Linked DNA regions of Homo sapiens: region 2 is linked to region 1. The links come from fine-mapping of genetic effects on gene expression. Tissue or cell type: testis. Region 1 holds a variant in brackets; the other region holds the start of a gene. All regions are shown on one strand. Distances are from middle to middle.

Evidence for each region. PIP is the estimated chance that this variant, and not a neighbour inherited with it, causes the effect.
Region 2: it holds the start of MAP1S, and the variant in region 1 is fine-mapped to the expression of MAP1S in testis (GTEx, PIP 0.98).

Annotation. Positions count from the first base shown.
Region 1 is chr19:17,532,307-17,535,061 of GRCh38, forward strand. It overlaps NIBAN3 (niban apoptosis regulator 3), which reads left to right. Exons shown (of 15, transcript NM_001321827.2): 3 at 1-82; 4 at 1,281-1,395. Among named protein-coding and RNA genes, the nearest start is that of NIBAN3, 6.4 kb to the left of the region's middle. The variant C/T (reference allele first, on the strand shown) is at 1,186.
Region 2 is chr19:17,717,994-17,720,620 of GRCh38, forward strand. MAP1S (microtubule associated protein 1S) reads left to right here and starts at 1,487. Exons shown (of 7, transcript NM_018174.6): 1 at 1,487-1,627. The coding sequence starts at 1,510. RefSeq lists enhancers at 1-18, 2,069-2,138, 2,529-2,627 and a silencer at 1,669-1,718.

The sequences.
Region 1 (2,755 bases):
TCGGGGCCACCCACCCCGGTGGCAGCCGATCTTCTGTGTTCTGCGTGGGGACGGCCGCCTAGAGTGGTTCAGCCACAAGGAGGTGCGTGATTGGCACGTGGCCTTTCTACTTCTGGGTCCCTCCTTCCCACCCCCGTCAGCCTCAAGGTTTGTGGGATCCATATCTCAGCATAGCCCCACCTCTATCAATCACCCAGGATGAATCTTGTGCCCCTATGTGTTTGGCCTGTTGTAGGCAACCATCTCGTCCCATCCCCTGCTGTGCTGGGTGGGTAAACTGAGGCCCAGGCCAGGGATAGGGTCGTGGTCAGTATCAGAGCTGTGGTTTCAACCTCTTGGGGCCTTTGCAAGTCACACCTCTGGCCGCTCTGCTTTCTGGCTGGGGAGCTTGGAGCGATCACTACCTTTCTGAAACTCAGTTTCCACTTCTGTGAAATGGGATGTTTCACACCATGTAGGGCTTTGAGGGTTCAACAAGAGGGTCCTCAGACAGCACTTGGGACCGGACCGGCACGTGGGGAGCCCGTGGGTGCTGGGAGCTCAGGGACTGAGGGAGGAAGGGAGGGAAAGGGGAAAGGGAAGGAGGGAGAGAGAGGGCAAGAACAGGAGGGAGGAAGGGAGAAAGTTATGGGGGCAGAGGTAGGATGGATGGAGGGAGAGAGGAGGAAAAAAAAAGGGAGGGAGAGCCGGGCCTCGTGGCTCACGCCTATAATCCCAGCCCTTTGGGAGGCTGAGGCAAATAGATCCCTTCAGCCCAGGAGTTCAAGAACAGCCTGGCCAACATGGTGAAACTCCGTCTCTACTAAAAATACAAAACCTAGGGCCAGGCACGGTGGCTCAGGCCTGTAATGCCAACACTTTGGGAGACCAAGGCAAGTGGATCACCTGAGGTCAGGAGTTCAAGACCAGCCTGGGCAACATGGCGAAACCCCGTCTCAATTAAAAATACAAAAATTAGCCTGCTGTGGTGGCGGGTGCCTGTAATCCCAGCTACTCGGGAGGCTGAGGTGGAAGAATCACTTGAACTTGGGAGGTGGAGGTTGCGGTGAGCTGAGATCGCGCCATCGCACTCCAGCCTGGGTGACAGAGTGAGACTCTGTCTCAAAAACAAAAAAAAAAAAAAAGAGAGAGGGAGGAATGGAGGAAAGGAGAGGGAGGGAGGGGTGGGAGGGGCAGAGGATTTTT[C/T]AGCTCATCTGAAATCTTCCCTTGATGGTATAGTTGGGACACAGAAGCCACAGTTCAGACCTGTCCCAGGTTGGTTCTCTGGGTACCTTTTGTAGGAATATGAAAACGGGGGCCACTGCCTTGGCTCAACAGCCCTGACAGGATACACGCTCCTGACTTCCCAGCGAGAATATCTCCGCCTTTTGGATGCTCTCTGCCCTGAATCCTTGGGTAAGGGTCCCGGGGTTCCCAGGAACAGGTTTCTCCACCCCAGCATCATTAACATGTGGGGCCAGATCATTCTCTGCGGTGGGGGCGTCCCGTGTACAGCAGGGCAGTAAGCAGCATCCCTGGCTTCCACCCACTCCCTGCCTGCAGCAGCCCCCACCCTGGGTGCGACAACCACCAATGTCTCCAGCATTGCCAAGTGTCTCCCGGGGGCAGCGTTGCTACGGGTGAGCATCCCTACTCTGGAAAACAAACAAACAAACAAACAAACAAACACCCACTCTTGCAAGGGTGAGGGGGAGAGTTAGGTCATGGGACCAGAATCAGAATAGCAAAGGATAAAAACAGTAAAATCTGGGATGGGTGCACTGTCTCATGCCTGTAGTCCCAGCTACTCGGGAGGCTGAGGCGGGAGGATCGCTTAAGCCTGGGAGGTGGTGGCAGTGAGCCGAGATTGCCCCACTGCACTCCAGCCTGGGCAATAGACTGAAACCCCATCTCCAAAAACAACAACAAAAACAATTAAAAACAATAGGCTGGGCACGGTGGCTCATGCCTATAATCCCACCACTTTGGGAGGCCGAGGTGGGCGGATCACTTGAGGTCAGGAGTTCGAGACTAGCCTGGCCAACGTGGTGAAACCTCGTCTCTACTAAAAATACAAAAATTAGCCGGTGTAATGACATGCGCCTGTAATCCGAGCACTTTGGGGGACCAAGGCAGGTGGATCACCTGAGGTCAGGAGGAGACCTCATGAGGCCAGCCTGACCAATATGGTGAAACCCTGTCTCTACTAAAAATACAAAAGGTAGGCCGGGCGTGGTGGCTCACGCCTGTAATCCCAGCACTTTGGGAGGCTGAGGCGGGCAGATCATGAAGTCAGGAGATCAAGACCATCCTGGCTAACATGGTGAAACCCCATCTCTACTAAAAATACAAAAAATTAGCCAGTTGTGGTGGCGGGCACCTGTAGTCCCAACTACTCAGGAGGCTGAGGCAGGAGAATGGCGTGAACCCGGGAGGCAGAGCTTGCAGTGAGCCGAGATCGCGCCACTGCACTCCAGCCAGGGTGACAGAGCAAGACTCCATCTCAAAAAAAAAAAAAAAAAGAAAAGAAAAGAAATTAGAGAAGGAACAATTCCAATTCCAGGCATGTGCCTGGCAAATAACTCAGCATTGGGCTTGCACTATCTCATAAAGTCTGCCCAGCAGGCAGGCCCATCACTAACTACCCCATTTCACAGATAAGGACATTGAGGCTGAGGATTGTCACACAGTCAAGGGCAGAGCTAGAATTGCACCCTCTGCTTCACCTAAAAGCTATCTTGCTGTCAAAGGACACAAAAATGTAGTCTGCTGAGAT
Region 2 (2,627 bases), 190 kb after region 1:
TCCCAGCACTTTGGGAGGCCGAGGCAGGCAGATCACGAGGTCAGGAGATCGAGACCACGGTGAAACCCCGTCTCTACTGAAAATACAAAAAATTAGCTGGGCACAGTGGCGGGCGCCTGTAGTCCCAGCTACTCGGGAGGCTGAGGCAGGAGAATGGCATGAACCTGGGAGGTGGAGCTTGCAGTGAGCCGAGATCGCGCCACTACCCTTCAGCCTGGGCGACAGAGCGAGACTCTGTCTCTAAAAGAAAAGAAAAGAAAAGAAAAGAAAAGAAAAGAAAAGAAAAGAAAAGAAAAGAAACCTCATCTCTACTAAAATACAAAAATTAGCAGGGCATGGTGGCGGACACCTATAATCCCGCTACTTGGGAGGCTGAGGCAAGGGAATCGCTTGAACCCGGGAGGCAGAGGTTGCAGTGAGCTGAGATTGTGCCATTGCACTCCAGCCTGGGCGGCAGAATGAGACTCCATCTCAAGAAAAGGAAAGGAGAGGAGAGGAGAGGGGAGAGGAGGGGAGGGGAGGGGAGGGAGAGGAAGGGAGGGGAGGGGAGGAGAGGAGAGGAGAGGGGAGAGAAGGGGAGGGGAGGGGAGAAGAGGAGAGGAGGGGAGGGGAGGAGAGGAGAAGAGAGGGGAGGAAAGGAAAGAAAAGCCTAAAGAGGATTATCTGGGGAGAGAGAGGTACCCATGTGCGCAACGCAGGCAGTCCCTTGCACAGGCTGGATCTAGAGTAAGACCCACTTGGGTTCAAACCTGCTCTACCACTTACAGGCCTGGTGACTTCATCCCTCCAAATCTCAGTTTCCTCTTCTTTCCTCTGAAAGTGACCACAGTAACTGTGCCTACTCATCTGTGCCTACATACAAGCACAAAACTCATCGCTTTGTGCTTGTATGTAATGAGCTAATGCAATAAAATACCTGGCGCACAGGAGGTGCAGAATAAGTGTTGCCCTGTTCCAGGCAGGCCCAGAGTGCTCCGGTTGTGTCCCAAACACACATGTACTTTCTTACCTCTAAAACTTTGCACCTGCTGTAAACTTCTGCCTCACCAGCTCTTGCCCCACCACCCACAAGGCAAACTCCTACACATCCCTTAAAGCCCTACCTACAAGATAGATTTCTTTTCTCTGTTCAAGCCCTGACCTAGAGAGCTGGGAGCATCCATAGGCACCGGGTTCTGATGCGGCCTACTGTCATGTGATGTGAGTTCCTGGAGGGCAGGAGTTCTGACCTACATGCAGCAGGCACGCAATCAAAGCTTGTTCAATGAAAAAAAAAATGAATGAATGGTCACTTGGGAGAGGCGGCTCCCAAGCGGACACCCAGGAGTCGGCCAACCCCTTTAACGCCCGCATCCCCTGCTCTCCACGACCTCAAAGGGCCTGTAAGTGGTCGACAAAAAGGGGCGGGGATGCGGTGGTTCCGGGCGGGGTCTTCAGCCCTTCCGGTGCGGCCCCTTTAAGAGGCGGGGCCTGCGGGGCGGGCGCCGAGAACGCCGGGGCGGCCCGAAGATGGCGGCGGTGGCTGGATCTGGGGCTGCCGCGGCTCCGAGCTCACTGCTCCTCGTGGTGGGCAGCGAGTTCGGGAGCCCGGGGCTCCTCACCTACGTCCTGGAGGAGCTCGAAAGAGGTCGGGCTGGCCTGGGGGCCCGCGGGAGCCCGGGAGGCGGGCCCGTTCGCGCGTCTGGGCCCGGGGCCGGCGGGGTGGGGCGGCGGCGGCGGCGGCGGCGGGACCCGGGCTCCGGGGCGGGGGTCGCGGGCCTGGGGCTGGGTCCCCTTCACCGTTAGGCGCACGACGCGGGCAAAGGCGGGGTGCCCGTGGGTGCCCGCGGAGAAAGTGGCATCCGGGCCTGGGCTGGGCAGGGCTGCCCCGCCCCAACTCCGGGTGAAGATAGGGGAGGGGACACGGGCCTGGGCTTGGGGACCCTTGCAGTTGGACCACGGCTCCGCTTCCCGCCTGACTGGCCTGCCCGGGGGTAGGGCCTGGGGTCGCTTTGGATCTCCAGGTCTTAGCAGCTTAGATAGAGATCTCCCGGAGGGAGAAGCAGATATGGGGGAGGCTGGGCCTGGAGCCCCGGGGCCCGCTTTCTGTTGCCTCACAAGGAGCTGCTAATTGGGGTGTGGGCGGGTGCGGCCTGCCCTGGGGATTTGGCACCTAGGGAGGTGAGTCATAGGCGCACCTGCCAGGTTCACCTGCAGCCACTTGGCTCAGTGGGACTGGCGGGCGTGATGCGCCCGTGGGTGGAGATGGGTGTTCATCCCCCATCCCTCGGAGCATCTGGACCTGGCGTTTCATTGCATGTAAAATGGGACAGGAACACGCACCTCGGTTCATGTGCTTGAGGAGTGTTTAGTGAGCACCTGCTATGCGCCAGGCCTTTGGGCAGTGGACACAGGGATATGGCCGGGATGATAGACAGGTTCAGCCCTGCCAACACAGGTCTGGTTTGGGGATGGACCCAAAGCGAGTGAGGAGATGGAACAAGCTTCCAGCTCACATGGTGTCAGGAAGGATGAGAAGGCTGCAAGGGACTGAGAGGACAGTCAGTCTTAGCACCCGAAGGTGCTGAGGGGGAAGGGCCCCCTGGCCAGTAGGAACAGGTGGGGGCGGCAGGGGGATGGACTTCCAG